Homo sapiens: one gene and its partners. The protein of the gene in region 1 purifies or fractionates together with the protein of each later gene. This does not show direct contact. Each region holds a gene or a part of one and is shown in the gene's direction. Other genes may lie near its edges.

Region 1 (7,819 bases):
TGCAGACTTAAGGGGAGGAGCTTGTGGCTGGATAAGCCCTTTCCTCACAGGGCAGCTGCTTTCCTTTGACATTGGTGACCAGCCAGTCTTTGAGATACCCCTCAGCAATGTGTCCCAGTGCACCACAGGCAAGAATGAGGTGACACTGGAATTCCACCAAAACGATGACGCAGAGGTGTCTCTCATGGAGGTGCGCTTCTACGTCCCACCCACCCAGGAGGATGGTGTGGACCCTGTTGAGGTGAGGCTTCCCCTGGTTGCCTTGGCAGCAGATGGTGCTGAGCAGGCATTGGCTGGCCTGGGAGCAGGGCCTGCTGCTTGGCTACCAATATGTGCTTTTGCAGGCCTTTGCCCAGAATGTGTTGTCAAAGGCGGATGTAATCCAGGCCACGGGAGATGCCATCTGCATCTTCCGGGAGCTGCAGTGTCTGACTCCTCGTGGTCGTTATGACATTCGGATCTACCCCACCTTTCTGCACCTGCATGGCAAGACCTTTGACTACAAGATCCCCTACACCACAGTACTGCGTCTGTTTTTGTTACCCCACAAGGACCAGCGCCAGATGTTCTTTGTGGTAAGCAGAAACCCCTATGGCCGGATAATCCTGGTTTTTGCCTAAGTGTTAAGTAGATGGATCTCACTGGTGTGCAGAATTCTACGTTGGTTAATTGCAAGTTGTTGTAGAGTGTCAATTAGTACTCTTCCTTACTAGATCAGCCTGGATCCCCCAATCAAGCAAGGCCAAACTCGCTACCACTTCCTGATCCTCCTCTTCTCCAAGGACGAGGACATTTCGTTGACTCTGAACATGAACGAGTGAGTGTCTCCCTGGACTCGTTTCCTACCACTGTCCAGGCAGGAGACAGGTGTGCCATTAGAAGGCAGTAGTGTTGTGACCTCACCTTGCTTTCTTTGTAGGGAAGAAGTGGAGAAGCGCTTTGAGGGTCGGCTCACCAAGAACATGTCAGGATCCCTCTATGAGATGGTCAGCCGGGTCATGAAAGCACTGGTAAACCGCAAGATCACAGTGCCAGGCAACTTCCAAGGGTGAGAGTGTGGGCCTGGGATCCTGCCCTGCCTGGGTATGGGAAATGCCGTGTCTCCTTGGTAAACCCTTCCTGAGATGGGAATGCGGCCTCCTAGAGGCCTGGATGGGACCTTGTGTCACAATAGGTGCCAGCGCCTCTGTCAGAACAGCTCAGTGAGGTTTACTTAGTCGAGGACATGAGCACTCGTGTCGCTGCTGCTAGATACGCCCTTTGCCTCTGCTGAGGTTGGCACTAACCAGGCTCCCTGCACCCTCTGTCAGGCACTCAGGGGCCCAGTGCATTACCTGTTCCTACAAGGCAAGCTCAGGACTGCTCTACCCGCTGGAGCGGGGCTTCATCTACGTCCACAAGCCACCTGTGCACATCCGCTTCGATGAGATCTCCTTTGTCAACTTTGCTCGTGGTACCACTACTACTCGTTCCTTTGACTTTGAAATTGAGACCAAGCAGGGCACTCAGTATACCTTCAGCAGCATTGAGAGGTGAGAACCTCCACCTGTCACTTCCTGGGCATCCTGGTCCCGAGCCAGCTTTGTCTAGGAAGGCTGGCGTGGCCTGGGGCACTCTCCAACCCTAGAGCAGAATTTTTCTTTTGCTACATCAGGATTTGGTCCTTTTCCCTGGAGTGCTCAGACTTTAGAAACCTCTCCATTGCTTTCTTTCTGGTCATTAAAAAAACAAAACAAAACAAAACAAAAAAAACTTTTTCCGTATTCTGAAAGCTATATGTCTTCGCTACTGGTCTTTTTTCTCCTCCACTCCCCACCATGATGGAAATGCTATCTCTTTCTTTCCTGGAATGAGCTTTGTGCCTGAGAACATAGCGGCTAATGCTTATTGAGTGCTCACTGTGGACTAAACGTTTTATAAGCATCTTCACGTGTAATCCTCATATCAACCTTGTGAAGTATGAAAAAAGATGACCACGTCCCCTGCCCCACACTTACTCCCCTCTGAGCTTATTTTGTAAACAGATGCGCACCCCTCCCTGCCTTTCCTTTCCCAGAGTTCTTCAAAGCCATGCAGTTCTTTCAGGACTAATGTCTGGCTCTGGCTCTGCCTTACTGCTGTCCTCTGGGGGTTTCTAAGCTGTTGGGTTGGGTAGCATAGTCAAGAGCTCCAGGCTCCACAGTCTACCCCAGCTCATGGAATCAGAACATTGTTTAGTGTGCCCCTGTGTTGGCACTACCTCTCTGGTAACATGGTGCATGTCCCCTCACAGGGAGGAGTACGGGAAACTGTTTGATTTTGTCAACGCGAAAAAGCTCAACATCAAAAACCGAGGATTGAAAGAGGTACTTCTGTGTGGGGAGGATGAGACCCTCTCCTGGTCTTTCTATAGGGGAGAAAGGGGTGGAGATTTTTTCCGGCTTCTTTTTCACTCTTTCTTCTCTTCTTACCCTTATAGAAAAAAGAGGTGCGTGTGACCCTTTCCCCCTCCTGGTGCAGGTTTCCTCTGCATGACCTTAGACCAGTCTATGCAGCCCCTCAGGAGCCCCCAGTGGGGCTGGGAGAGGGAGGGGCTTGGGGCTTGGACTAACCCAGTTGGCAGGAAGTACTTGGGCATAGGCCCTGCACGTTGGCTGTGTGTGGACAATCCAGCCCCAGGTCTTCTGGGAGCTGCTGCTCTGACTTGACAGGCATGGGGGTGTGCTTTTGAGTGTGCAGGGATTCTGGCTCGAGGGTGAGTTGGCCCCACCGTGAACTCTTCCCTGGCTAGGGCATGAACCCAAGCTACGATGAATATGCTGACTCTGATGAGGACCAGCATGATGCCTACTTGGAGAGGATGAAGGAGGAAGGCAAGATCCGGGAGGAGAATGCCAATGACAGCAGCGATGACTCAGGAGAAGAAACCGGTGGGTTAGCCTCCGTGCTGAGCACGAGGATGGTCAGACGCTCCTCGCTGTGGCCCGGGCTGGACTCACCCTTGGGCCAGAGCTGGGTGCCTGGGTGAGGTGGGGGGATTTCCATTGGGGCAGAAGCTGATGCATCCTGTGCCCTTTTTCAGATGAGTCATTCAACCCAGGTGAAGAGGAGGAAGATGTGGCAGAGGAGTGAGTTTTGGTGGTACCTTGTGGGGATAAGATGGTGACCCATAAGCTTAAGGGACCAGAAGATTTCTGGACATTTCTCAGGTCCCAGCATTAGCTACTGACCCAGAATGGGAGAGTGACCTCCAATGAGGTGATATACGAAAATGTTTTGGAAATTGTCAAGGGCTTTGTAAGTGCAAGACATATTTTGAAGTCGGAAAAGTATAGTGGGATCTATGGCCATACCGCCCTGAATGTGCCAGTTGGGGCTGGTTCGTAGTTGGATGAGGAGAGAATGGGAATGAGCTGGTGCTTGCCACTTACTTGCTGGGGGTTGTCGAGTAAGTCATTGAATCTCAATTTCCTCATCAGTAGAAATGCAGTAGTACCCCTGCTAAATTGGTTAAGACTTTTTGTTAGCAGTGTCAGAAATGTGATTCACTCTCACTTTAAAAGGGAACATATAAAAGGGAATTTCATAAGTTCATATTACTGCGGAGTCTGGGGATTTAATTGGCTTCAGACACTACTGGATTCAGGCGCTCAAATCTATTTCTTCCGATTTCCTTAATTAAAAATAGGTTTACCCCATGGGGTGCCCAGTGACTCTCAGAAGCTCAGGGCAGGCTTAATCCTACTGGTTTAAAACAACACCAGAAGTGCCTCTTTTGGTGAACAGCATAGTGAACACAGTGGTTACCTGCCCCTTTCTAGCCTGAGTTATTAGAATGGGCTGGGGTCTGATGGGCCAGAAATAGGCCAAGTGCCCACCCTTAGAGCCTGTGGTTGGGGTAAGCCCTTCCTGAGTGGGGGCAAGGTGGTTCCCAACAGAAAATTGGGACTCTGCTCTCTTAATCCAGAAGGATTGTAAAAGAATGTCGGGCAGCAAAAAAAACACCCAACAGGAGTCCTCTAGTTCAGCCTGCCACATGCTTATGAAGGTTTATGAAGGTTTAATGAGCAAATACTTGTGAAAGTGCCTTGAAGACTGTCCAGCAGCATACAGGTGTAAGGTAGTTGCATTGTTTGAGGAGTTTCACATATATCAGACAAGACTGTCAATTACAGGGGTAGGCACTGGGTTGGACTGAAGTTGGTTTTCCTCTTTTTGTAGTAACTGATTATCTTTTCATCAGAAGACTGTAGGGGCCAATCCTTTTGTAGTTCATAAACATAATGGTTGGGTGTTACGTGCGTGTGTGAAATGTGCCACCCTCCAGCCTTGTTACGATGTTGACACATTACCCATCTGACATGGAAAAAAAAAGAAGACAAAAAAGACTATAGGGTAGATTAAGGTGATTACTCCGAGGGAAGTGGTGAAGTGGATTTGGGCCATGTTCCAGGCATGAATGAGGCAGTGTTTCTGCCAGTGGTGTCCTGGGGATGGACTAGGACCTGGTTTGGCCATGCCCAGGGAGATCCGCTGAAGCTCATTGATTTGTTTTTCATTCATTAATTCCAATCAAGTAACCAATTGCTGTGGCTGGGTCTGGAGAGGGCATGGCTGAAGCCACCACAGTGAATGGGAGAAAGCAGTGTTGGGGATTGGTGGTGGATACTGTCCTCTGGTCTTCCTCCCTTGCCCCTTTTGGGTGGGTATCTTTGGATTTGTCTTCCTCCTGTCCTGAGGCCGTGGGGTCCTGTCTTCCCTCCTCAAGTCTAAGCCTGGCTTGTTCTCTGGCAGGTTTGACAGCAACGCCTCTGCCAGCTCCTCCAGTAATGAGGGTGACAGTGACCGGGATGAGAAGAAGCGGAAACAGCTCAAAAAGGCCAAGATGGCCAAGGACCGCAAGAGCCGCAAGAAGCCTGTGGAGGTGCAGACTGTAGATGGGAGGGCCTGTGTGTGGTGCAGTGGGTGGGGGGCGTGGGAGGCATTCTCTTTACCTTCTCCTGTCCACCACCAGTAGGACCTGTTCTTCCTTGGGGCTGTTTTTTATAGCCAGTGATTATAGCCTTGAGGGTTATCTTCTTGGAAATTTTTCTCACTAGCCCTGAGATTAATAAGCTTCTGGAAGGTCTGAATTAGGAGATGGGCTTCTGTCCTGGTAAGCTAGGCACTGAATTGCAGAGGGGAAGGAGATACTATCCTTGCCCTTAGGGAGCTCTCGTCTCGCCTGATGCTATTTAGTCCTCCACTTTTTCTCCAAGTTAAGTGATCTAAATAATTTATTTGGGAAAATGTATGGGTTCTGTGGGAAATAGCTGAAGGCATTTGGGTTCTTATGTAGGTGAAGAAGGGCAAAGACCCCAATGCCCCCAAGAGGCCCATGTCTGCATACATGCTGTGGCTCAATGCCAGCCGAGAGAAGATCAAGTCAGACCATCCTGGCATCAGCATCACGGATCTTTCCAAGAAGGCAGGCGAGATCTGGAAGGGAATGTCCAAAGAGAAGAAAGAGGTGAGTAGCAGCAGAGGAGGGGTGATGCCTCTCATGGGCTGGCGAGAGGTGCTGTCTTGGGGTGGCGAGTCTCATGACTGATAGGGGAGCAGTATGAGCCATTGGTGGGACTTTCTGTATCGATTTTGCCTGCATCAGGGGAGAGGGGAGATGGGAGAGGTCTTATTCTTAACTGTTTTTTTCTGTGTGTGAGACAGGAGTGGGATCGCAAGGCTGAGGATGCCAGGAGGGACTATGAAAAAGCCATGAAAGAATATGAAGGGGGCCGAGGCGAGTCTTCTAAGAGGTGAGTGTCGAGAACATGGCCCAGTCACTGATTTTTGTGGCAGACTTTTTTTTTTTTAACAGGCCGAAGTTGAGCATTGGAAAGTTAAAGACAGCAGAGATGCTTCTGACTGCAGTAGGGTAGTGCTTCTCAAACCTGGGTAGGCCATTGCCCAAGTATGGGTGACACAATAGGGCATTCAAGTCACTGGGGAAATATGGCCTCTTTTCCTGGACCATTTTATTTGAAGGTATGGGGGAACGAAAAAAATACTATTATGGAGTGCAGTGCACAGTTTGCATGAACTCTAAAAGATAAAGCAAGAAATATCAAGTAGGTTTTGCACATTGGGCTGCTTTAGGCTGTGCCCTCTGATTCTTCTGGTGTACTCATGATACTCTCCCTTGGTGCCCTCCAGGCTGACGCAGCTATTTACGTTCAGAGTGAAATGGGCTGTGTGGCTGGGATTGGGAAAGGCCTTGTTAAAGCTGGGAGAGGTTTGGTCATGGTGACAGGGGACCTGAAGGCCCAGCTCCTCTTCCCTCTTGCCAATACAGGGACAAGTCAAAGAAGAAGAAGAAAGTAAAGGTAAAGATGGAAAAGAAATCCACGCCCTCTAGGGGCTCATCATCCAAGTCGTCCTCAAGGCAGCTAAGCGAGAGCTTCAAGAGCAAAGAGTTTGTGTCTAGTGATGAGAGCTCTTCGGGAGAGAACAAGAGCAAAAAGAAGAGGAGGAGGAGCGAGGTGCGGCAGGAATGTGGGGCCTGTGGGCTGGGCAGGGTGAGGGGCATGTGTGTCTGTGTGGGGTTGGTCTGTAAGAGTAATGAGTTGGAGTGGATGGTGGAATTCTGAGGTTCTGAAGGGGGGTGCTGTAGTTGGGGGCGGTAGGGAATTGCGGGCCCTTCACTGAAGAGTGGGTGGGGCACCCAGGACTCCAGCTTTTCCCTTAAGACACCTTTGGTTTTCAGGACTCTGAAGAAGAAGAACTAGCCAGTACTCCCCCCAGCTCAGAGGACTCAGCGTCAGGATCCGATGAGTAGAAACGGAGGAAGGTTCTCTTTGCGCTTGCCTTCTCACACCCCCCGACTCCCCACCCATATTTTGGTACCAGTTTCTCCTCATGAAATGCAGTCCCTGGATTCTGTGCCATCTGAACATGCTCTCCTGTTGGTGTGTATGTCACTAGGGCAGTGGGGAGACGTCTTAACTCTGCTGCTTCCCAAGGATGGCTGTTTATAATTTGGGGAGAGATAGGGTGGGAGGCAGGGCAATGCAGGATCCAAATCCTCATCTTACTTTCCCGACCTTAAGGATGTAGCTGCTGCTTGTCCTGTTCAAGTTGCTGGAGCAGGGGTCATGTGAGGCCAGGCCTGTAGCTCCTACCTGGGGCCTATTTCTACTTTCATTTTGTATTTCTGGTCTGTGAAAATGATTTAATAAAGGGAACTGACTTTGGAAACCATGTCCTCATGCTTTCTTTGTAGCCTTGGTGTGTTGCTCCCACTTTTATTGGTGGTGTTTACTGCTCTGGTCAGACTGGGCAGGGCCTTCCTGGCCAGCCGGGAAGCAAGTCTCGAGGTACATCCTGTTCTGTTCCCGGCTGGACGAGCATTGGTTTTCACCCGCCTCTGCCCGGATGGGCCACCTGAGAGTCTAGAAATGAGAGCTGATCTGATTAGGAAGTTTCTCCCAGTTACACTCCATTAGCCAACCAAGCTAGGGGGAGGCAGCTCTTGGCTGCATCCTTACCTATGAGTCAAGGGTCTTCCAAGGCTTTCGATAATGAAATCAGGATTGACTGTCCTTCCCGCAGCCGGGGGAGTGGAAACCTGAGCCTGGAGAGTCGGGGAGGATGAGCGTGTGCGTAGAGTGGTGGTGGTTGCAGCCTGGTGGTGGTGCAACAAAGTACGGAGTTATATGTGAAGCTTTTGTTCTTACGGGAAGAAGGGGGTATACAAACTTCAGTGTAGGGAGGAACCCATGTCTGAGAAGGGGCCTAAAAGGAGATAAAGGTCACTAATGAGGAATGCAGAGCTGCCAGACTTCTTCACGGTGGCTCTAAATCT
Region 2 (7,819 bases), on another chromosome or scaffold:
TTTTGTAAATACCAAAGTATCAGCCACTTCATATTTGCACCTAAAACTTCCATAACTGCTTTGAGTGCTTACACCTACTTATAAAACATCTAAAGCTATTCTTAAAAATGGATTGAAAATGTTTTATGCCCTTTACTGTATACAAAGGGAAACCATATTAAGAGTAATTTTGAAGGGAGTGTATCAGAACCCATGTTTGAAGTGGCTAAGTTATAAATGAAAATAAATGCTTCTATGTTTAACTATTATCCTTTCAAAAGATAATTATTGCTTGTGACATTGTCCTTTTGCACATTGTTCTTGGAAAACGTCAAGGTTAAACAGAACCAATGTGCCACATTTGACACTATCCAGAAGTCACTGGTGTTTGTGCATCACATTCATGTCATAGTTACTTAAGTAGATTGCCATCCAGCTTAATAAACTGTCCTTTATGAGCATAATTTAAAATTACTAAATATTAGTTTCATTATTTGTCTATGTACATAACTTGTTTGGACCAAATTGGTCAGGTCTGCTGAAACATGAGTTGTACATTTTGACAAAGTTTTCATTTTAATTACTCGGTTAAGTGCCCAGTTGGATGAATTTCTGTAACAGTTGATGATTCAGAGACCTAGGATAAGTTGATAACCTAATGATGCATTTCTCTTATTCAGGATAAAAGAAGTAAATGAGACTAACAAACGAGTAGAACAGGAAATTAAAGTGGCCATTTTCACCCTTATCAATGAAATTAATAAGAAAGGAAAATCTCTCTTACAACAGCTAGAGGTATGGTTCAAAGCCAAAATAAAACAAAAACTGCTTCTCTTGCTCTTTAGCTGTTTTTAATGTTTATTGAAAACTATTTTAGATGGATTGGGGGGTATGGAAATAAAGGAAAACGTAAAATAAGGTTTTTAAAATTTACTTTTGGAAGAGACCTTTTCTAGTTAGTTACTTTGCGGCCCAATTTAATAACACTGACTTTAGCTGTATACCTTAGGAAATAGTGATGTCCTCTTAGAAATCAAATAATTGTTACTAAGACTGGGTATGGTGACTCACACCTGTAATCCCAACACTTTGGGAGCCCAAGGCAGACAGATCGCTTGAGCCCCGGGATCCAGCCCAGCCCAGGCAACATGGCGAAACCTGCCTCTACAAAAAATACAAAAATTAGCCAGGGTGGTGGCATGCACCAGTAGTCACAGCTACTCAGGAAACTGAGGTGGGAGGATCGACTGAGCCCGGGAGGTCAAGGCTGCAATGAGCTGTGATTGTGTCCTGCACTCCAGCCTGGGCAACAGAGTGAGACCCTGTCTCCAAAATGAAAAACAGAAAAAGAAAAAAGAAATGTTACTAAAATGTGATGTACGTAAAGGCAAAGTAGTCCCACCACATTTCTTCCCCACCCCCTTAAGATGGGGCCTCAATTTAATTTTACCATATAGATTCATGTTGGGCTTCTGCTTGAGTCATTTGTGTATTTTACCTTATTTTAAAAATATTTCCATAGTTTTGCAGAAAATGCTGCTCTTTTTGAAATTTATAAACCTTAAACTTAGTGAAAATTTTGTGATATTAGGTATTTATATTGCATATTTTGAAGTTTATTTGTAGGTGTAAGTTTCTAGATGAAAATCTAGTCAGTTCATGAAATCTAAATTTTTAATCAAAGTCTCCACTGCCGATTTGATTTATTTTTAGCAAATTTCAAATAGGAGTTTTCTGGGAAATTGAAGTTTCAGAAAGAGAAATGTTTCCTGATTGAAAATTTCATGCTCTGGAAAGTTGAAATTTTGGAAAGAGAAATATTTTCTGATTGAAGATTTCATGCTCTTAACTAGGTTCAGATGATATGGGGATTATTTTTTCTGCACCATTGAATAGTAATAATGAAATGATTTATTTGATTATTTCCATTAACCTCAAATTGTCAATAGTTTTTTTTTTTTTCTGTCCCATCTCTTCATAGAATCCTTTAAAAATATTAGGTGAATAATTACATAAAAATGAAATGATGTCAGTAGAATGTTATCTCTGAATGGAATACATCTTTCCAGTGAAACACAATTTGTGAGATTAAAAGTACTCTTGGCCGGGTGCGGTGGCTCACGCCTGTAATCCCAGCACTTTGGGAGGCTGAGGTGGGTGGATCACAAGGTCAGGAGTTCGAGACCAGCTTGGCCAACATGGTGAAACCCCATCTCTACTAAAAAAAAAAAACAAAAATTAGCCAGGCGTGGTGGTGTATGCCTGTAATCCCAGCTACTCAGGAGGCTGAGGCAGGAGAATTGCTTGAACCCGGGAGGTGGAGGTTGCGGTGAGGCAAGATTGCGCCTCCGCACTCCAGCCTGGGCGACAGAGCGAGACTCCGTCTCAAAAAAAAAAAAAAAGTACTCTTGTGCAGATTGTTAAAGTTGTGGGTCCCTTTTCCTACTGTACACCAGTCTGTTGCATTTAACCCTAATAGGTTTTTCCCCCCAAAAGGACCCATGTGAATAGAGAGCACTTAGTAACTATTTTTGATACACTTAAACTTACTGTAATACATTTGAGCTGTACGTCTAAAATAGTATTTGTAAAACCATTTCAAGAGTTTCTGAATTAAAAGATGCTTCTTAAGATCCCTTGAGCCTGGGAAGTGGAGTTTGCAGTGAACCAGGATTGCACCACTGCACTCCAGCCTGGGGGACAGAGTGAGACTCTGTTAAAAAAAAAAAAGCCTCTTAAGGCTAAAGTGTATACAAATACCTAATGGTAAATACGCCACATACTACTAACATGATGATAAATTTAAAATAGATGTTTTCTAGTGTAATATGTTCTTATACTTTGTAGAAGAAACGTTTTTCTAAGCTTTATAAAAGAAATGTAGTAAACCATACTTCTCTCAGTTGAATACTCTTATCCATTGATTTACATTATAAAATGAACAGCTTCTTTCCTTAGGAAAAATATTGTCCAGAAAAACCAACTTGAGTCATTTTTGGGAGAAAGTTCTTAAGAAAGTAGTAGATGAGTTGTTCAGCATGCTGAATGTCAAAAGTATGTAGGACATTACCCATCCCTCCTGGGGTGATTTTAGTTCCCATAAAGCAGTTTATTTTTCCTTTGCAGTGTTTCTCTGAAATTGGTTTTTGCAGTTTGGTCAGTCCTTACTTCTTTGTTCTCTGTGAACTTCTGTGATATCAAAAGTTTCCCTAATTCTACTCTTAGAACTCTGGAAGTTATCTTTTTCATTTTGTCTTATATATTTAAGAGAGATTTTAACTTCATTCTCATGCCATACCAGGAGGTGGCACTGGTGACACAAAATTTTTTTGGCCTTTAAAGTATATTAAGATTACATAAATTTATTTCTAAAGTTAGCTCCTTATGCTATAAATACCATATATTAGATTAATCTAATAGGAAGACACTATTTTTAACAGACATGTTGATAGAAAAGTGACATTAACTAACATTCATTTCTATATGTGGAATATCCTTTTTAGCTTAGAGAACTGACTTTTAGTCCCACTTTTGTTAGTGGCTTTTCCTCTGATGATAGGCTTGCTAAATAATCATGGAGCTTATTCACTTAGCCCATTTTTAAAGGAAGTATAGGTATTGTGCCCATTTGCATTAGAAATGTGGGGTTGATTTTTTTTCATATGGAATTCTACAGCGAAGCTCTTGTTCTGTTTCAGAATGTTACAAAGGAAAGACAGATGAAGTTACTACAGCAGCAGAATGACATCACAGGCCTTTCCCGGCAGGTGAAGCATGTTATGAACTTCACAAATTGGGCAATTGCAAGTGGCAGCAGCACAGCACTACTATACAGCAAGCGACTGGTGAGACACATACTGTTTTTATTTTTCTTTAATGGACTTTATTAAGATATATATTCAGTGAATTGCACCTGTTTAAAGTATACATTTTAATTTTGGCAAATGTAACCACCACCACATCAAGATACAGAAAACTTCCACCACCCCCCAAAGTTTCCTCATTCCACTAGGCAGCCACTAATCTGATTTCTGTCATTTTTTAGAATTTCATATAAGTGGAATTATATAGTATGTACTCTTTTGAAGATACCTAGTATCTTAATGCACTTTATTACCCAAAATGGCAGAAATTCAAGTATGTATATTTGATTTGATTGCTAATTTAAATGTTGATGCTGCCTAATCTGAGGCTGACACTGTGGGAATATATGTGCTTTTTTTTCTTAATGTCTTTATCTTATGATTTCCCAATTGATATTTAATTTTGAGACTAATGTGGATTTTTTTCCCTTTAAGATTACTTTCCAGTTGCGTCATATTTTGAAAGCACGGTGTGATCCTGTCCCTGCTGCTAATGGAGCAATACGTTTCCATTGTGATCCCACCTTCTGGGCAAAGAATGTAGTCAATTTAGGTGAGAAATAATGAGTTTTATGAATATAACTTGGAACACTGAATTAGAAGGAGAAAATACTTAAAGCAAATTTAGATAAAATTTTTAACTTTATAAAACTAATGTTTTACATTTTATGTAAAAATATGTTGTTATTCATTGGAAACTCACTTTAGCTGTGGTTTTGTGTGGCTGTTATTACATCTTAAGAAAGTTGAGCGTCTACTCTGTATATTGTTTTTTAATGTGTGCTGTTTCTAGTCCCCCGACCCTCCATCTTTTAAATTTATATTGACTGTTTCATATAGAAATCTTAGCAAATGATTCATTGTCTGGAATAATTTCATAGATTTTTAGTTGTTTAATTAAGCCAAATTGTGCATTAGCAACAGACTTTTAGGATGCTAATGTGTCCAGTAGTTAGGTCCTGAGGAATGTTTGAAAGATAAGAGTAGCTCTTTTCACATGGAAGAGAAATGGATTTTCCTTTTGTTACAGCGTAGTATGGACCTAAAGACCATAGATGAAAGTTACAGAGAGCTCAGTTAAAACACATGCACACAAACTTCCTAGCAATTAGAGAGCTATTTACAGATTGAGTAAACTCACTTTCAGAACAGTTAAGTCCTAAACAGTGGGAATTGTAAAAGCAGAGGCTGGTTGCCCTTTTTTTTTAAAAAAAAAAAAAAAGTAATCTTTGCATATAATAAAAAAAAATTATATTCAAATTTAGCTATAGCCTTAGTTCTGACATCAGCCAGCTGTTTTTGTGTGACGTAGTAGCTAAGAATGGTTTTTACATTTTCAACTGGTTGTAAAAGCAAACAAAAACCAAGGACTGTGAGACAGATCTTATGTGGCCTGCCAAGCATGAAATATTTACTCTATAGCCCATTACAGGGAAAGCCTGTCAACCTGTGCCTTAAATCACATCTTCCTAAAATTTGGCTTCTATCCCTAGAAGGCAATGGCTCCATAAAAAGCAAGGAAAACCATCACGTCTAAGGATATAAGTTGTTTAAAGCATTCAGTATTTCCACAGAAGACGATTTTGTGACATTGTAATGCTCTGCCTTGCATATTTTGGCAATTCAAAGGCAGATGGAATCAGTATTGGCAATCTTGAGTATCCTTGAGTAAGTCTTGTCATGGGAGAATTGATTTAGATTGATTAGATAGGCCTCTTCTAATAGATAATCTCTTTTACTGTCTTAATTTTCTGTATGTCTAAGTAAAAAAGAATAAGGACAGAGAGTATATTTTTCTGAATAACCAAACGTCATTTATTCAGCTTTGGAATGTATTAAGTTTCTGATCATCATCATCATCTTTAAACTGACTCCATTCCCTGCTGTACTGTTGGAGCTTTGAGGTGCTGATAGTTGTCAGAGGAAAGAGGAAAACATGGTGATTACTCAACAAAGTAGATGATTTAGTTGATTATATGCAAATTCTCATTTTTTAAATTTTTCAGGTAATCTAGTAATAGAGAGTAAACCAGCTCCTGGTTATACTCCTAATGTTGTAGTTGGGCAAGTTCCTCCAGGGACAAACCACATTAGTAAAACCCCTGGACAGATTAACTTAGCACAGCTTCGACTCCAGCACATGCAACAACAAGTATATGCACAGAAACATCAGCAGTTGCAACAGATGAGGATGCAGCAACCACCAGCACCTGTACCAACTACAACAACAACAACACAACAGCATCCTAGACAAGCAGCCCCTCAGATGTTACAACAACAGGTAAGTATCGTGTTACTACATTATTGATAGAAATTATGAAGCCCTCAACACTACACTTTTTCCTATATAATTAAGTTACACATTTCAAAGTTACTAGCAAGACTGAGCAGAGTTCAAAAGTCAGAGTTTAAATATTTGCTATGGTTATGATGGTGATGTAAGGGAGCTGTGAAGAAAGGCAGTAAGTAAATTGTCTTGGGAAACAAAATTAATTCACTAATACTCTGAAAGGATGTAAGTTCTCATCCTTTCACATCAAATCTTTTTTGTTTTCCACGTATAATTTTGTGGACCAAAGGACCAGACTGTTTCTGCCTAGGATCTGATATGTTCCTTAGGCATTTGTTCAGATCTTTCCTATACCTGTGTGTCTTTTGCTCTCTCCACTGCCATCCCAATCAAAACTATTACTCCAGGATGGGATACGTTAATGTTGATACGCTTTAAACACACATATAGAGAAAAAGAGGGGGAACAGGTAAGAGAGAGAGAGAGAGACAAGGGAAATTAGGGAGTGATATACAAACTAGTCATTACCAGTCCTCTGGGGATTGGGGCTAGCGATAAGAATTATTTATACTTTTTACTTTATACCCTTTTATCTTGACTGAATTATTTTTATGATTACATTTTATAATTGAGATAAATTTATTTTAAAATTATTACATAAATTGCAATTTCTACTTTTTGTAGCCTCCTCGATTGATCAGTGTGCAAACAATGCAAAGAGGCAACATGAACTGTGGAGCTTTTCAAGCCCATCAGATGAGACTGGCTCAGAATGCTGCCAGAATACCAGGGATACCCAGGCACAGCGGCCCTCAATATTCCATGATGCAGCCACACCTCCAAAGACAAGTATGCCTAGAGTTACATTTGTAAGAATCCTACAATTTTAAAATTAAAAGACGTCATTTTCTTAATCACTTTTTGGGAGCAGGTCATTGATGTGTTTGAGAATTTGATTAATGCTGTATATCCTCTTGTCCCAGAAAAATAAACATACACATGAGATTTTGTATTTAATTTTAAGAGCTTTTAAAAAATGCTTTAAGTGCATCATATACTGTGGGTTAAGAAACCCTGATGTAGTTAACCCATTCAATTTGCAGAAGTGAAAAAAATCTAATGAGCTGGTGATTTTACCCACAATCACAAAAAGCAATGATAAAATAGCAAGAACATTAGTTTCCTGAAAATGCTGCTCTGCTCTTTTAATGTGGCTTTTTGATCCTAATATATAAAAAGGGCTTTGAGAGTAACAGAGCTAACTATATGTATTATTATTATTATTTTTTTTTACCTTTTCTCTACTCAAATATTCTTCCTTTTAGGATGTAGATACGCTTTAATAAGTGTGTTTAGAGACATGTTTTATAATCTTTGCCTGGTTATGTTTATATGGGAGATATGAGTATACAGTGAGGCCACTTTTTCATAGGATTTCTAGTTATAATAGAGTTTATTTTTTAACTCTTAGAATGATGTTTCTCAAAACATGTTTTAAAGACCATCAGAATCACCAGTCAGCTTTGGTGGAGTGGGCAACCTTGTCAGAATGGATTCCTAGCCATAACCACTGAATCAGAATTTCTAGGTGGGGAGTACTCAGTAATATTTAAATTTGTATTAAGTCTCTCAGGTCAATCTGCGTACTAAAGTTGGAGAAACACTGTCCTAGAACAGTGGTCCTTCA
Region 3 (7,819 bases), on another chromosome or scaffold:
GGCCCTGGGAGGTGTGTGCAGGGGTGAGCCTGGGGGCGGGGTGGAGTCCCGCCAGGTGTGTACAGGGCTCTCTCCCTCACAGAGGAGGCCTGAGCACCTGTCCTTGGAGGCAGCAGCTTCAGCAAGAGGGGCAGGTACCCCTACTTCCTGACAGGAGAAGACCCCCTTTTTTCTCTGAGCTCAACACAGTGTGTCAGGGGCAATGAAAGGGCGGCCAGGAGACCAGCTGGGCTTTTATTTCGCAGCCACCATCTTCATTGGCAAACTGGAGACAGTAGTTGTACCCCTAGCCTCCCAGGGTGGGAGAGGAGATGGCACGCGTGGTCCAGGAGTGCTGATGGCAGAGACCACCATTGGAGGTTGGCAGCCGTCAGCCCTTACTTTGAGCCAGGCACCATCCATGTTGTGTTGTTTTTTTTTCTTGAGACGGAGTCTCGCTCTGTCACCCAGGCTGGAGTGCAGTGGCATGATCTCGGCTCACTGCAAGCTTCGCTTCCCGGGTTCATGCCATTCTCCTGCCTCAGCCTCCCGAGTAGCTGGGACTACAGGTGCCCGCCACCACACCCGGCTGATTTTTTGTATTTTTAGTAGAGACGAGGTTTCACCATGTTAGCCAGGATGGTCTCGATCTCCTGACCTCATGATCTGCCCGCCTCGGCCTCCCAAAGTCCTAGGATTACAGGCGTGAGCCACTGTACCTGGCCCCGAGTTTTTAAGTGTGTTAGTTCTTGTGACCCTTGAGACCAGTCCCCAAGATAGACCCTGCTATTAACCCCCACACCAACAGGCAGGCAGAGGTGTGGAGAGAGTGGGGGGGCCACCACAGGGCTCACAGCTTGCAGGTGGTAGAGCTGGGGTCAGGGCCCCCTGTGCTGCCCCCCTGCATGAACCTCTTCCCGGCAGTGCTGGCAGTGGTCCGGCTGCAGCAACAGCTGGAAGAGGCTGAGGGCAGAGACCCTCAGGGTGCCATGGTCATCTGTGAGCAGCTAGGGGACCTCTTCTCCAAGGCAGGAGACTTTCCCAGGGCAGCTGAGGCTTACCAGAAGCAGGTGTGTGGCCCCGGCTGGGTGGGAGGGAAGGGCCAGTGAGGTTGACGAGGCCTGGCCAGGGTGGCAGCCCCTGGCCTCACTGGCACTGCCCCCAGCTGCGTTTTGCTGAGCTGCTGGACAGACCGGGTGCTGAGCGGGCCATCATCCACGTGTCCCTGGCCACCACACTGGGAGACATGAAGGACCACCATGGGGCCGTGCGCCACTATGAGGAGGAACTGAGGCTGCGCAGCGGCAACGTGCTGGAGGTGAAACCCTTGCTCCCCGCCCGAATGCAGGTTCACCCATGTCTCTGCCTCAGGACTGCCGTTCTCAGGGTGGCCATGGACAGGTGTCCTTACTGGACGGGCAGCTCCTTCCTAGGACCATCCACCCTCGGCAGCTGGGAGGCCGGGCTCCCATTTCGTCTGGGCAGCCGGGGAAGCTTGACTGGGGCCCGTTGGACGCAGACAGCGGCAGCCCCCGACCCTGTCCTTCCTCCTGCTCCAGGAGGCCAAGACCTGGCTGAACATTGCACTGTCCCGCGAGGAGGCCGGCGATGCCTACGAGCTGCTGGCCCCGTGCTTCCAGAAAGCGCTCAGCTGTGCCCAGCAGGCCCAGCGTCCCCAGCTGCAGGTGCGAGAGCCCATCCCACCCATACTGGCTCCCCGGTGAGCCCAGCTTCGTTGCAGCCTGCCTGCCCCTTGTGCCCCATCCCCATCTTTCTCTGCGTCCACAGCCCCCAGTCCTGAGCTGAGCATCCCTCTGCTCCTCAGAGGCAGGTCTTGCAGCATCTCCATACCGTGCAGCTGAGGCTGCAGCCCCAGGAGGCCCCTGAGACCGAAACCAGACTACGGGAGCTCAGTGTAGCTGAAGATGAAGATGAGGAGGAGGAGGCGGAGGAGGCGGCAGCCACAGCGGAGAGCGAAGCCCTGGAGGCCGGCGAGGTGGAGCTCTCAGAGGGCGGTGAGGGCCAGCGGCACCTTGCATTTCCCTGGGCCTGCTCTGGGCCGGGCTGGAGAGGGGTGTGCTGTGCTGCTGTGGAGCCTGCTTAGGGCTGTAGCAGGAACAGCCACAGGCAGGCAGGACGGCCAGTGCTTTCCCGGAACTGGACAGAGAAGGTGGTGACCCGCAGGGAGCCTGGGGCGGCCTTGGCCTCCTGGAGGAGACAGTGGTTGGGAGTCGAGTGAGTGTCAGCTGGGGCATGGTCCCGTTAGAGAGGCACGTGCCATCTGGGGCCAGGGGTGAGACGGTGCACTTTGAAGAGCCCCGGCTGCCTCTGCAAGAGCTGAGCACCTTCCTGAAACCCTTCAGAGCAGGCTTGGGTTTCCTCCAGAGGCTGGCGACATCAGCTGCACGGAGGGCAGGCATGAGGGACTGGCTGGAGCGGGGCTTGGACTGAAGCCATCTTGGCCGTGGTGCAGGGAGAGAGGGCTGAGAGCGGGGTTAGCGGGTAGCTGGGAGGCTGGTTTCTGACTGAGTGGTGGGTGGCAGGAGCCTGTCCATGAGGCCTGTTGGGGGGTGTTCCAGGGAAGGCTGTGACTTCAGCTCTGAACTCGAGGGCGTCGTTAGAACCCTGAGTGGCCAGGCAGCTGTGGGAAGTTGGGGCCTTGCCAGGTTGGTTGCTGGGGGGAGGTGGATCAGGATCTAGAATTTTGGGGAATGCTGCTCAGCTGGTGGGCACAGTGAGGAGCTGCGGAAAGACCCAGAGGCAGCTGGCAGGGTGTGAAGGGCGTGGTGATGAGGGGTCACCCGAAGCAGGGACGGAGGCGGGTGTGTCTGCTGCCTAGGCAGGGTGGAGGCTGCAAGGTGCAGGATACCCAGGCTCCAGGGCTGACCTGGCCTGACGACACAGCTCAGGAGATGGGGGTGGATAAGGCGTGGGGTGGAGGAAGACTGGCCCACGAGCCGGTCTGGGCGTGGGGATGAGTGGCTGGCGCATGGACAGAGGGGGCCTCGGGCAGGCCTTCTGTGGGAGGGCCAGGCGTGGGTTAGGGCAGAAAGCTCAGGGGTGTGTCTCAAGTGGGCAGAGGGATGGTGGGCAGGAGCAGGGTCCCAGCAGGGTCAGGGAGACATGGAGGCAGCGCTGGGACCATTGCTGAGGAGCCCCCAGAGCCCAGCAGCCTCAGAGCTCAGCCCTCCCGTCTCTGGCTCCTTTGTACCTGGGAGTTTGGGGAGCTTGCAGCAGGGTGGGGGCTGCTAACCTTCACCTCCCACGGACTCCCCTGGGGTGGGCTTGGCTCTGTTCCAGAGGACGACACCGATGGCCTGACCCCGCAGCTGGAGGAGGACGAGGAGCTTCAGGGCCACCTGGGCCGGCGGAAGGGGAGCAAGGTGAGGACAGTGCCCTGCCCCCACCCACCCCGCTCAGCAGCCCTGCCAGCTCCTCACGCCCCTGCCCTGTGCTGGGTTGGCTGTGCCCACAGTGGAACCGGCGAAACGACATGGGGGAGACCCTGCTGCACCGAGCCTGCATCGAGGGCCAGCTGCGCCGCGTCCAGGACCTTGTGAGGCAGGTGGGCCCCGCTCTGGGACGTGGGACAGGCTGCCTAGCATGGAGGAGCTGTGCGTTTGTGCCGGATCCCCTATCTCTGTAACTCTCAACTTCCTCATCTTCAAAATGGGGCCCCTTAGCAAGCATGGTGGCACTTGCCTGTGGTCCTAGAGGCAGGAGGATCACTTCATCCTGGGAGGGAGATTGAGGCTGCAGGAGTCGCGATCATGCCACTGCACTCCAGCCTGGGCAACACAGTGAGACCCTGTTTCAAAAAAATTTAAAAAGCGGAGGCTGCACGGGGTGGCTTATGCCTGTAATCCCAGCACTTTGGGATGCCAAGGCAGGCAGATCACATGAGCCCAGGAGTTCGAGACCAGCCTGGGCACCCTGGCAAGACCTTGTCTCCAAGAAATTTAAAAATTAGGTGGATGTGATGGCGTGTGCCTGTAGTCTCAGCTGCTTTGGAGGTTGAGGTGGGAGGGTTGCTTGAGCCTAGGAGGTGGAGGCTGCAGTGAGCCATGATCTTGCCACTGCACTCCAACCTGTGTGACAGAGCAAGACCCTGTCTCAGAAGAAAAGCCACAGGCCGGGTACAGTGGCTTATGTCTATAATCCTAGCACTTTGGGAGGCTGAGGCGGGCGGATTGCCTGAGGTCAGGAGTTTGAGACCAGTCTGGCTAACATGGTGAAACCCTGTCTCTACTAAAAATACAAAAATATTAGCTGGGTATGGTGGCACATACCTGTAGTCCCAGCTACTCGGGAGGCTGAGGCAGGAGAATCGCTTGAACCTGGGAGGCGGAGGTTGCGGTGAGATGAGATTGCGCCGCTGCACTCCAGCCTGGGTGACAGAGCGAGACTCTGTCTCAAAAAAAAACACAAAAAAATGGGGTGCCCAGGCTGGGCGCGGTGGTTCATACCTGTAATCCCAGCACTTTGGGAGGCCAAGGTGGGCAGATCACGAGGTCAGGAGCTTGAGACCAGCCTGGCTGGTCTCAAAAAAAAAATGGGGTACCTGCTGTGTGGTATGCATCTGTGTTACAGCTAAGTTGGTCAGCCTGGCCAGGATGGGGGCTAGCCCATGGGCTGAGATCTGGGCACCTTCCCGCCCCGCCTGCCTCATGCCCCTGCGACCAGGTGCACTGTCTCCCCACAAGGGGACCGGGCAGGCACAGAGGCGGAGGATATGCTGTGGCTGGTCCACCTGTCTCAGGGGGAAGCATGTCCTTCACTGGTGACACCTAGGCCGGAGGAGGAGAGGGCAGGGCCACGGACTTGCTCTGGGCTCTAAGACTGAGGCCCTGGGCTCAGCTTAGGCTGCAGAGCTCACGGGGCTGGGGCCAGGCTGTGAGGTACACAGGGCCAGGCTCCTTCCTGTCCTTGGTCACAGGGCCACCCCCTTAACCCTCGGGACTACTGTGGCTGGACACCTCTGCACGAGGCCTGCAACTACGGGCATCTAGGTGAGCAAGGGACAGAAGGAGCCTGGCGCACCTTGGTGGACACGTGGGGCGAAGAGTCAGTCCTGGCGGGGCATCGGGAGCTGGGCTTACGTCTCCTGGTCTGCAGAAATTGTCCGCTTCCTGCTGGACCACGGGGCCGCAGTGGACGACCCAGGTGGCCAGGGCTGCGAAGGCATCACCCCCCTCCACGATGCCCTCAACTGTGGCCACTTCGAGGTGGCTGAGCTGCTGCTTGAACGGGGGGCGTCCGTCACCCTCCGCACTCGAAAGGTGAGCCTGGTGGGGCAGAGGGCAAGGGCGAGGTTATGGGGGCTGCTGTGCCCCTGCTCAACTGATGCCACACAGGGCCTCAGCCCGCTGGAGACGCTGCAGCAGTGGGTGAAGCTGTACCGCAGGGACCTGGACCTGGAGACGCGGCAGAAGGCCAGGGCCATGGAGATGCTGCTCCAGGCGGCTGCCTCGGGCCAAGGCAAGCAGGGCGTCCCTTGTCCCTGGGGTTGCTGTGCCTACGCTGAGAGTCCCCGGGCCCTGATTTCGGGAGATGCTCCATCACAGGTGGAGCGGGAGGTGCCGGGCCCCTGCCTCAACACGCATTCTCTCTCCCACAGATCCCCACAGCTCCCAGGCCTTCCACACCCCAAGCAGCCTTCTGTTTGACCCCGAGACCTCTCCTCCTTTGAGCCCCTGCCCAGAACCCCCCTCTAATAGCACTAGACTCCCAGAGGCCTCTCAGGCCCATGTCAGGGTCTCCCCAGGGCAGGCGGCACCAGCCATGGCCAGGCCTCGGAGGAGCAGGCATGGGCCAGCCAGCAGCAGCAGCAGCTCAGAAGGCGAGGACAGCGCAGGCCCCGCACGGCCGTCCCAGAAGAGGCCTCGGTGCTCGGCCACAGCACAACGGGTGGCAGCCTGGACGCCTGGCCCCGCCAGCAACAGGGAAGCAGCCACAGCCAGCACCAGCCGGGCAGCCTACCAGGCAGCCATCCGGGGTGTGGGCAGTGCTCAGAGCCGGCTGGGGCCTGGCCCACCGCGGGGCCACAGCAAAGCCCTTGCCCCCCAGGCAGCGCTCATCCCGGAGGAGGAGTGCCTGGCCGGGGACTGGCTGGAGCTGGACATGCCCCTGACCCGCAGCCGCCGGCCCCGCCCCCGGGGCACTGGAGACAACCGCAGGCCCAGTAGTACCTCTGGGTCGGACAGTGAGGAGAGCAGGCCCCGTGCCCGAGCCAAGCAGGTCCGCCTGACCTGCATGCAGAGTTGCAGTGCGCCAGTTAACGCAGGGCCCAGCAGCCTGGCTTCAGAACCTCCAGGGAGCCCCAGCACCCCCAGGGTCTCAGAGCCCAGTGGGGACAGCTCTGCGGCAGGCCAGCCCTTGGTGGGTATGCAGACCTGGAGCAGAGCCCTCTCCCCACTCCGGGCAGGCAGGTGTAGGGTGGAGCCCACTGTGGCTCCTGACTCAGCCCTGCTGCCTTCACCTGCCAGGGTCCGGCCCCGCCCCCTCCCATCCGGGTTCGAGTTCAAGTTCAGGATCATCTCTTCCTCATCCCTGTCCCACACAGGTGAGGCATCGCCTGCCCTACCCCGCAGCCCACCTGTGCAGCTCCATGCCAGGGTGCTCGTGTTTGCATGTCAGGGTGGGGCGTGTGACGAGGGCTCCCTGGTGTGTTCCAGGAGGATCCTGTGGCCCCCAGGAATAGCAGAGGGGCTGGTGGTGTGCTGGGCTGCAGGGAGAGGAGGGGCCGGCTACCTGGGAATGGGAGAAGCAGCTGAGGGGGCTTCTGGCCCTGGGCAGGGATGGCGGGTCCCTGGGGCATTACCCCGGCTGTGTGCAGGCAGCAGCAGCAGCGCCTCTGTCCCTGCAGCAGTGACACCCACTCTGTGGCCTGGCTGGCCGAGCAGGCGGCCCAGCGCTACTACCAGACCTGCGGGCTGCTGCCCAGGCTCACCCTACGGAAAGAGGGGGCCCTGCTGGCCCCACAGGACCTCATCCCTGATGTGCTGCAGAGCAATGACGAGGTGAGCCGCAGAGCGGAGGGGGAGCCAGGGCCTCAGGCACCGGGAGCCCCCGGGTGGCTCATGGCTGCAGAGCAATGATGAGGTGAGCCGGGGGAGCCCCCAGGTGGCTCATGACGGTGCCTTCCAGGTGTTGGCTGAGGTGACTTCGTGGGACCTGCCCCCGTTGACTGACCGCTACCGCAGGGCCTGCCAGAGCCTGGGGCAAGGTGAGGGCCAGGAGAGCTGCAGTTTCTGGGTGAGGTCGTACAAGGGGGTTGGGCACACAGGCTCCACCAGCCCGGTTCATTCCTGGGCCTCGGGTGTTTTGGGGTGCACCTCCCCCAGCCTGGTGGGTGCTGTGTCCTGCACTTGGATGTGTGGGTGGAAGGGAGAGGACAGCCCTCAGCCCCCATGATCTGCTGACAGGGAGATGGCAAAAAGCAGCCGAAAGCCTGGAAAGTCAAACCCAAGGAGGAGGGCCTGGCATGGGCTGGGAGCTGCTGGGGAAGCTTCCCAGAAAGCTTGTCCCGGGGGGTGTGGAATCTGGCAGTGACTGGTGGAGCTCAGGGTGCTGCAGACCCACCCCGGCCCCCAGGGCCTCACAGTGCTAGACCCACAGGCATGTGCGAGTGGGCTCTACAGCAAGTCTGGTGGGTGACCCCTGGGGCTGTTGAAAAGGGGCTGCCTGGTTTGCCCTCTGGGATTCAGAGGGCAGAAAGGGCCGGCCTTACCCTGGTGACATCACATCCCTCCCGCAGGGGAGCACCAACAGGTGCTGCAGGCCGTGGAGCTCCAGGGCTTGGGCCTCTCGTTCAGCGCCTGCTCCCTGGCCCTGGACCAGG
Region 4 (7,819 bases), on another chromosome or scaffold:
TGACAGAGCGAGACTCTGTCTCAAAAAAAAAACTCATCTCAATTAATAAAAATTAAAGTTCTTCATTATCATTTAAGACACAGTTCATATTCAGATTTTAGGTAATTTTAAACAGGAGTCAGTTATTGAAAGCTAATTATTCCAAAACACAGTAAAAATCTATATGTGATACATTTAAAGGAAAATGGAGAGGTGGAAGGAATTCTCTCACCATCATCCCATGAAACCTTTTGAAGAGACTTAAACTGTATCTACGCCATGTCATACGTTTTATTGATAGAACAGGCTCAGTGAGTGATCCTCTGTAATCCTGAAGATTACAGAATGAGCGAGTCTTTATCTAGGACATAGGTTATAAATATGGGTTAATTTTTAAAGACTTTGAAATCAACTAGGAAGAATAGCAAGAAATTGCTATCAGGAATTAAGATGGAACATGATAAATAACAGCTTTCCCTGATACTTTAGTCTACATTATTCCTTTTTTGAACTTCTATTGTATAACTGTATGATACAGTTTAAAATTTTATTATGTAACTGTTAACCTAGAATGTTTTATGTATCTTAAACTTCTTTTTTTTTTTTTTTGAGAGGGTGTCTCACACTGTCACCCTGGCTGGAGTGCAGTGGGGTGATCTTGGCTCACTGCAACTTCCGCCTCCCGAGTTTAAGCGCTTCTTTGCCTCAGCTTCCCGAGTAGCTCGGATTACAGGGTCCCCCCACCACGCCCGGCTAATTTTTGTGTATTTTTAGTAGAGATGGGGTCTCACCATGCTGGCCAGGCTGGTCTTGAATTCCTGACCTCAGGTGTTCCACCTGCCTTGGCCTCCCAAAGTGCTAGGATTACAGGCGGGAGCCACTGCACCCCATCTTAAACTTCTTTTTTTTTTGAGACGAAGTCTTGCTCTGTTGCCCAGGCTGGAGTGCAGTGGTGCGATCTCTGCTTACTGCAAGCTCCAGCTCCTGGGTTCACACCATTCTCCTGCCTCAGCCTCCCGAGTAGCTGGGACTACAGGCGTCCGCCACCATGCCGGGCTAATTTTTTCGTATTTTTAGTAGAGACGGGGTTTCACCATGTTTGCCAGGATGGTCACGATCTCCTGACCTCGTAATCCGCCCGCCTCGGCCTCCCAAAGTGCTGGGATTACAGGCAAGAGCCACCACACCCGGCCGTAAACTTAAAGATATAAACAGTATCTTGCTGATGGTGAAGGCTATGGTATTTGAAATAATTTTTGAGATATATGCAGTCTTTAATAGATAATTTTGGAAGGTCAGGCAAAGATGTATTTTATCTTTTCTTAAAGTTTTCATTACCTGAAGCTGATCCTTTAATTAACATTCACAAGGTATTAATCATCATCCCCAAATTAAAGAGGTATTGAAGCTGTGTAATTTGGAAACATTGTCCACGTAATTGTTACATGCTTTAAAGTGTTCTAAAATTAACTCTCACCTTACATTTTTAAAATTAGGCAACAACTGTACAACTTGGAAACCTTGTTACAGTCCAGTTGTGATTTTGGTAAGTTTAAGGTGTGTTTAATGCAAAAGGGAATGGTGCTTCATTATAGTGAGTTGCACATGGGTCCATGATGGTATAATTGGCATATCATGATAATACAGAGGAAGCATTAGGCCAGAAGTTTACGAATTTAGTGTTCAGAAAAGTATGACTTTTTAAATTTTGTTGTAGCTGAGATATATAGTATTTTCCCAAATCTGTAGATTTTAAAGGTAAAACCGACTTAAGCTAAAATTCTCTGAAGAGAATTAGTACTTGTTTTGGAGGTAGGGAGTGGGATAGAGAACTTAAATGAGAACTAAACAGTGCCAGACCTCATGCTGTCTTCTTGATTTTCTTTTCTGCTTTCTGCTTTTGTGTTTGCTTTTGGTGTGTGATGGATTACTGATTTTTTTTTCTTTTGTTTAGATTGGTATAGTTGGTTTTTTTTTGCTTTTTTTTTTTTTGATAGGGAGTTCTGCTCTTTTGTCCAGGCTGGAGTGCAAAGGTGCCATCTCAGCTCACTGTAACCTCTGCCCCCCGGGTTCAAGTGATTCTCCTGCCTCAGCCTCCCGAGTAGCTGGGATTATAGGCACCTGCCACCACCCCCAGCTAATTTTTATATTTTTAGTAGAGATGGGATTTTGCCATTTTGGCCAGGCTGATCGCAAACTCCTGACCTCAAGTGATCCCCTGCCTTGGCCTCCTGAAGTGCTAGGATTACAGGCATGAGCCACCGCATGTATAGCTAAGGTAATAAAGGGAATTGAAGGGCAGTGTGTTTTAGTGCAGTCTGGCTGCTTCTCCTTTCTAGTAATTTTGGTGCAGTGCAGTGTTTAGAATCATGGCCTTGTCACCCTGGCTTCCAACCCTAGCTAATTGTGGGTCTTACGTCAAGTAATAGTTCTAACTTTGTTGAGCGTGTTAAGTGCTTAACACAGTGTCTACCATTATTGATGCCTAGCAACCAAAGACTACCTGGAACACTTTTGGTCAAACAGAGGTTTATTAGATTATGAAAAAAGGAAAAATACACATTACAAGGAAAAGCTGGGGCTTGTCAGTAAGAGGGAGTAGGAAGGGACTTGTGATATGTTTGGGGCTCATTCTGGTGATTTTCCGTAGGGCTTAAGGGGGATAAGGCTATATTCTGGATTGGATGCTGTTAATTAGCAGGGGCAATTTGAAGAGTGGGTATTTTAATTTTTATCTAGGAGGTGAGACAAACAAAGGGAGCATCCTAATTAGTAAAAAAGTATTGTCCTGGTCACTGGAAGAGGGAGGATGTGTTTTTTTGTTCATTTTGTGTGTGTGTGTGTGTTTTGTTTGGAGTGTGTGTGATTGCATAGTGCCATGTTTTGTATTCAGACATGGTTACAGAGGTTTTGTTTTTGTCTTGTTTCACTGTAATGGAGTGGCCCTGTATCATTATTATTTATTATTATTATTATTTTTTGAGATGGAGTCTCGCTCTGTCACCCAGGCTGGAGTGCAGTGGCATGATTTTGGCCCACTGCAACCTCCAGCCCCCTGGGTTCAAGCAATTCTCCTGCCTCAGCCTCCTGAGTAGCTGGGATTACAGGCGCACACCACCACACCTGGATAATTTTTGTATTTTTGGTGGAGATGGGGTTTCACCATGTTGGTCAGGCTGGTGTCGAACTCCTGACCTTGTGATCCACCCACCTCGGCCTCCCAAAGCGCTGGGATTACAGGCGTGAGCCACCGTGCCTGGACTATTTTTTATGTTTTATGAAAATTGTTTATTTTCAGTAGGGGATACCATGGCCTAGCTGTTAGCTATCAGCTTTTAGGCTGTTTTATATTTTTTGTTTTCTTAATATGTTACGTGATTTGTAAATGTTAAGTATTATTGTTTCATTATCATCTGATGGGTCCCTGGTTCATGCCAGGTACTTTGCAAGGTACTGACGAATCAAAGAGGAAAAATATGCTGCTGATGAGTTTGCAGTTGTGTAGACAGCTAGACATGCAAGCATACATCAGCTTGGTAAATGAAAAGGTACGGTGATAAAGGAATGTACAAGCTGCTGTGGAAGCCAAGGGCTTTGTCTATCTGTGAGCTCCTCACTAAATGATGCCAGATCTGGGTCTTCACAGATGGGAAGAAATTAGCTAGGCAAAAGATTTGGGAAAAGTTTTTCGGACAGGAAGAATTCCAGGCAGAAAAAAATAAAACTGTATAAACAAAGACGTGATGTGTGTAAAAACATAAAAGTTTAGAGAGCATGGATTAAATATTAATTACATATGGTTGGATCAGAATGTGTGTGAGTGATGAATTTGGAAGGGATAAAAGCAGAGTTGGCTTTGTAAACCATGACAGAGAGTATGATTTTTATTTTGGAACTCCTGTGGAGCCACTAAAAGATTATAGTGGAAAGAACCAAAATACCTTTACCTTTACGTAGAATAACTTAAGTAAATTGGGTTCATGGAAGGCATTTATTATGATAGATTATTATTATTACACTTATTAACCTGAAACCACTGCAGTGGACTATTTGTTAAGATGGTTGTTTGTTACACTGACATTTTGGCTGTTTTTGTTGCTTAAAAAAGCTTTTAATGACAGATTTTGGACAAGTTAGTGGTGTTAAATATTATCCATACATGAACATGTCCCTGCCATGTAGCTGTGTTCATTAACTTGTGTAGCTACCCTTGGACCTCAGCTGTGCCAAGAAGTCCCTATGTAGTTACTTACTGCCAGATGAGTATAGTTCTTGTTCTAGCCATTATGCTTCCAGGGTTAATTTCCAGTTGAGGCAGAATAACATACTTAATGACATGTTTTGCTGACAGCTGTTTTTTTTCTCTCTTTCCGTCTCTTTGTCTCTGTCTCAAGACAGGGTCTCACTCCATCGCCCAGGCTGGAGTGCAGTGGTGCGATCATGACTCACTTCAGCCTTGACCTCCTGGGCTCAAGCAGATCCTCCCATCTCAGCTTCCCAAGTAGCTGAGACTACAGGCTCACGCCATCATGCCTGACTAAAATTAATTTTTTGTAGAGATAAGGTCTCACTATGTTGCCAAGACTGGTCTCAAACTTCTGGGCTCAAGTGATCCTCCCGCCTTGGCCTCCTAAAGTGCTAGCATTATAGGTATCACCCACCACACTCAGCCAAGAGCTATTCTTAAATATAATTGTTGGTGTTACCCTGTCTCAGCTATTGTGTGTGTGTTTTTTTTCTCTAGACATTCCTTATGGATTTTTTAAAATGTCTTCTGTTTCTGACTTCATGCTTGTTTTCATCCATCTTGAATATATGGAGTATACATTATAACCACTGTTGTTGCTGCTATTAATAATTCTTCTTTTTGAGAGGGCATCTTGCTCTGTCACCAGGCTGGAGTGCAGTGGCGCCATCTCGGCTTACTGCAACCTCTGACTCCCTGGTTCAAGCAATTTTCCTGCCTCAGCCTCCCGAGTAGCTGGGATTACAGGCACACGCCACCATGCCTAGCTAATTTTTGTATTTTTAGTAGAGACAGGGTTTCATCATGTTGGCCAGGATGATCTTGATCTCCTGACCTCGTGATTCGCCTGCCTCAGCCTCCCAAAGTGCTGGGATTACAGGCGTGAGCCACCATGCCCGGCCAATAATTCTTTTATCACTGTCATTTCTGAAACTATTTGTATTGATTAGTTTTTCTCCTGATTCTGTGATATATTTTTCTGCTTCTTTGAATATATAGTAATGTTTTATTGTTAGATGAACATTGTGGGTTTCACATTGTTGCTTTCTGGATTTTTATTCCTTAAACTAGATGTTGAATTTTGTTATGGGTCGCTATTGTGTAGTTGTAATCCACTGGTTCTTCTTGAGGCTTGTTTTAAATTTTGGTAGGACTTTTAAAAAGCAGCCTTTAATGTTAACTTAGCCTAGTAAATTAGTCTAGTAAGGCTTTGAGAATTCTTTCTCGTGCGTAGTCTATTATGAGATTTTTTTTCATGCTTGCTGGTGAGAACTTGAACTATTCCCTGGCTTGTGTACTCTTTATAGGGAATTGTTTTCTGGTGTTTTTCCCTGGCGTTGGGTAATATTTTTCATGCTTGAACAGATCGATACTTAAATCTCAGAGGGACACTTCTGTACCCTTCCAGAACTCTATTTTGTATAGCTTCTTTCTTCTTGGGTACTTTTGCCCTGCAAATTTGGACTTCCCTAAACTTGGATCCCATATCTCCTCATCTCAAAGAGTGAGTTGGGCTGTATTTGGGTTCTCTTCCTCATATTGAAGCCTGGAAACTGTCTCTAGGTGGGGAGCTGGTACAGTTGTAGGGCTCAGTTTCTCTCTGGGAGAGCAATCTTATATTGTCTTGTGTCCAGAGCCTGAAAACTTGCTTGACGTAATTTTTATGGTTTTCAGCTTTACAGTGGGAGATGGAGCAATCTGATTATTTTACTCCGTCTTGCCTGGATGCAGATGTTCACTGCAGTTATTTTTAAGAGAGTACTGCCTTAATGGGCCGAGAATTGTGAAAATTGGGATGATATGACTTTTTATGGGTGAAATAAAGCCATAAAAATGCAGTTTAATATGGAGGTATTTACACAACTGCTTCACACTTATGCTTCTATTCTGCCACAGTAGTGGCATGATTGTTCATTTGAATTAAACTTTAGTTTCATGTTTAGTATGGCTGTAAATTTGTAGCCTATAATTCTCATCATGTTTTCTTTGCTTTTGTTTACTAGATTGTCTCTTACTCATTCTCTATATAATGATTATTAGTGTTTTGCCCATAGTAACTACCTAGATAATTATTGCTGATATAAATGCTGAAGTAAGTGAGGGAAAGCTGACATGGAGTGAGGTTGGGAGAAAGGCAGCAACTATTAAAAGGTCGTTCAGAGCTTTATAAATTATTATTAGGAGTTTTGATTTTATTCTAAATATAATAGGTATTCTTTCAAGAGTTTTGACTTGGGAACAAGATAAATTGATATACATTTTAAGCAGATTTTTTACTTAGTGTATAGGGGGACAAAAGAGAGCATGGAAAGACCTGTGAAGAGTGCTATTGTGGTGGTTTAAGTGTTTATAGGGAAAATGGATAGTTTCAATGTATATTTGGTTATTAACTTAATAGGACTCTGAAGGATTAGATACGAGGTTAAAGGAAATGCAAGAATCAAGAACCATATAGGCTACTGGTGGCACCATTTTATGAAAGGCTGAAAACAAGGACAGCATCAACAGGTTTTGAAAGAAATCAAAGGAGGTATTATTTGCACTGTCTGAGCAATCCAAGTATAGGTGTTAGGCAGTTTAACACGGAAGGTCTGGAGTGCAAAGGAGAGATGGGGTTGTAGATAACCCTTTTAGAGTCATTATCATTTATTAATAAAGGAACTGATGAGATCATACATATGGGAAGAGATATACAGAGAGTAGAGGATTCAGGACTGAGTCTTGAAGAGACCATATTAATAATAGAATTGAGGAGGAGGAGCCAATAAAAGAGGTAGGACAAAGGATACATGAGGAAGAAAGAAGACTCATTATCTGGCACCATGAAGCCAGGTGTAGCTAGTGCTACTGTGGGAGCAAGTTACTTGAGGGTAGGCACTGTCTATTAGATTGGGCAATGTGGGTGTGATTGGTGACTTTAATAAGAGCATTTTTTGAGGAGTAGCGGGGAGCAAGAACCATAAGAGAATGTTTAATATAAAATGTTACAAGATAGAGAATTGCTGCCGGTATGGCTTACAACATTTTTTGTCACTGCCCATGATAATTATTTGAACTATGATTAACATTGTCTATTTTGGTTTCAGGGAAGGTATCAACTCTACACTGCAAAGCAGACAATATTAGGCAGCAGTGTGTACTATTTCTCCATTATGTTAAAGTTTTCATCTTCAGGTAGGATATCAGATGAGTATTTTGATCACTGCATGAATTTCTGTGTGTATTCACACAGACTCTAGTTGTTTATTTTATCTAATTATTTTTTAGGTATCTGAAAGTACAGAATGCTGAGAGTCATGTTCCTGTCCATCCTTATGAGGCTTTGGAGGCTCAGCTTCCCTCAGTGTTGATTGATGAGCTTCATGGATTACTCTTGTATATTGGACACCTATCTGAACTTCCCAGTGTTAATATAGGAGCATTTGTAAATCAAAACCAGATTAAGGTTTGACTTGTTTCATTTGATTTTTAAATTATCAGCTTTTTCTCCCCACAAGGAGTATTCATTCAAGAAGGAGAGAAATTAGTCAGAATTACAGCTCTGGAACCTGACTGCCTGAGTTGAAATTCTTGCCCCCCATCCTCCTTTTATTA

The links.
Region 2: the proteins of SSRP1 (region 1) and TRIM33 purify together in Homo sapiens (affinity purification with mass spectrometry; 3 studies listed by BioGRID and IntAct, with this or other methods). This does not show direct contact.
Region 3: the proteins of SSRP1 (region 1) and TONSL purify together in Homo sapiens (affinity purification with mass spectrometry; 6 studies listed by BioGRID and IntAct, with this or other methods). This does not show direct contact.
Region 4: the proteins of SSRP1 (region 1) and MMS22L purify together in Homo sapiens (affinity purification with mass spectrometry; 4 studies listed by BioGRID and IntAct, with this or other methods). This does not show direct contact.

The regions. Positions count from the first base shown.
Region 1 is NC_000011.10:57,325,381-57,333,199, reverse strand, and holds the end of SSRP1 (FACT complex subunit SSRP1), read left to right. Parts: intron 1-50; coding exon 51-241; intron 242-344; coding exon 345-575; intron 576-713; coding exon 714-817; intron 818-919; coding exon 920-1,048; intron 1,049-1,310; coding exon 1,311-1,532; intron 1,533-2,272; coding exon 2,273-2,345; intron 2,346-2,458; coding exon of another isoform or gene 2,459-2,590; exon of another isoform or gene 2,591-2,770; coding exon 2,771-2,909; intron 2,910-3,061; coding exon 3,062-3,107; intron 3,108-4,238; exon of another isoform or gene 4,239-4,341; intron 4,342-4,773; coding exon 4,774-4,903; intron 4,904-5,317; coding exon 5,318-5,488; intron 5,489-5,685; coding exon 5,686-5,774; intron 5,775-6,310; coding exon 6,311-6,497; intron 6,498-6,721; coding exon 6,722-6,793; 3' UTR 6,794-7,212; downstream 7,213-7,819. UniProt on the Homo sapiens protein: Component of the FACT complex, a general chromatin factor that acts to reorganize nucleosomes. The FACT complex is involved in multiple processes that require DNA as a template such as mRNA elongation, DNA replication and DNA repair.
Region 2 is NC_000001.11:114,423,753-114,431,571, reverse strand, and holds part of TRIM33 (E3 ubiquitin-protein ligase TRIM33), read left to right. Parts: intron 1-659; coding exon 660-774; intron 775-3,677; coding exon 3,678-3,824; intron 3,825-4,277; coding exon 4,278-4,395; intron 4,396-5,848; coding exon 5,849-6,123; intron 6,124-6,816; coding exon 6,817-6,981; coding exon of another isoform or gene 6,982-7,001; intron 7,002-7,819. UniProt on the Homo sapiens protein: Acts as an E3 ubiquitin-protein ligase. Promotes SMAD4 ubiquitination, nuclear exclusion and degradation via the ubiquitin proteasome pathway. According to PubMed:16751102, does not promote a decrease in the level of endogenous SMAD4.
Region 3 is NC_000008.11:144,434,196-144,442,014, reverse strand, and holds part of TONSL (tonsoku-like protein), read left to right. Parts: intron 1-903; coding exon 904-1,049; intron 1,050-1,108; coding exon of another isoform or gene 1,109-1,144; coding exon 1,145-1,297; intron 1,298-1,538; coding exon 1,539-1,664; intron 1,665-1,804; coding exon 1,805-1,994; intron 1,995-2,121; exon of another isoform or gene 2,122-2,539; intron 2,540-3,232; exon of another isoform or gene 3,233-3,279; coding exon 3,280-3,362; intron 3,363-3,454; coding exon 3,455-3,544; intron 3,545-3,681; exon of another isoform or gene 3,682-3,787; intron 3,788-4,268; exon of another isoform or gene 4,269-4,316; intron 4,317-4,915; coding exon 4,916-4,988; intron 4,989-5,019; exon of another isoform or gene 5,020-5,094; coding exon 5,095-5,258; exon of another isoform or gene 5,259-5,264; intron 5,265-5,333; coding exon 5,334-5,457; intron 5,458-5,596; coding exon 5,597-6,357; coding exon of another isoform or gene 6,358-6,361; intron 6,362-6,395; exon of another isoform or gene 6,396-6,464; coding exon 6,465-6,541; intron 6,542-6,574; exon of another isoform or gene 6,575-6,844; coding exon 6,845-6,998; intron 6,999-7,125; coding exon 7,126-7,204; intron 7,205-7,735; and 1 more. UniProt on the Homo sapiens protein: Component of the MMS22L-TONSL complex, a complex that promotes homologous recombination-mediated repair of double-strand breaks (DSBs) at stalled or collapsed replication forks.
Region 4 is NC_000006.12:97,272,555-97,280,373, reverse strand, and holds part of MMS22L (protein MMS22-like), read left to right. Parts: intron 1-1,475; coding exon 1,476-1,525; intron 1,526-7,311; coding exon 7,312-7,399; intron 7,400-7,492; coding exon 7,493-7,670; intron 7,671-7,819. UniProt on the Homo sapiens protein: Component of the MMS22L-TONSL complex, a complex that promotes homologous recombination-mediated repair of double-strand breaks (DSBs) at stalled or collapsed replication forks.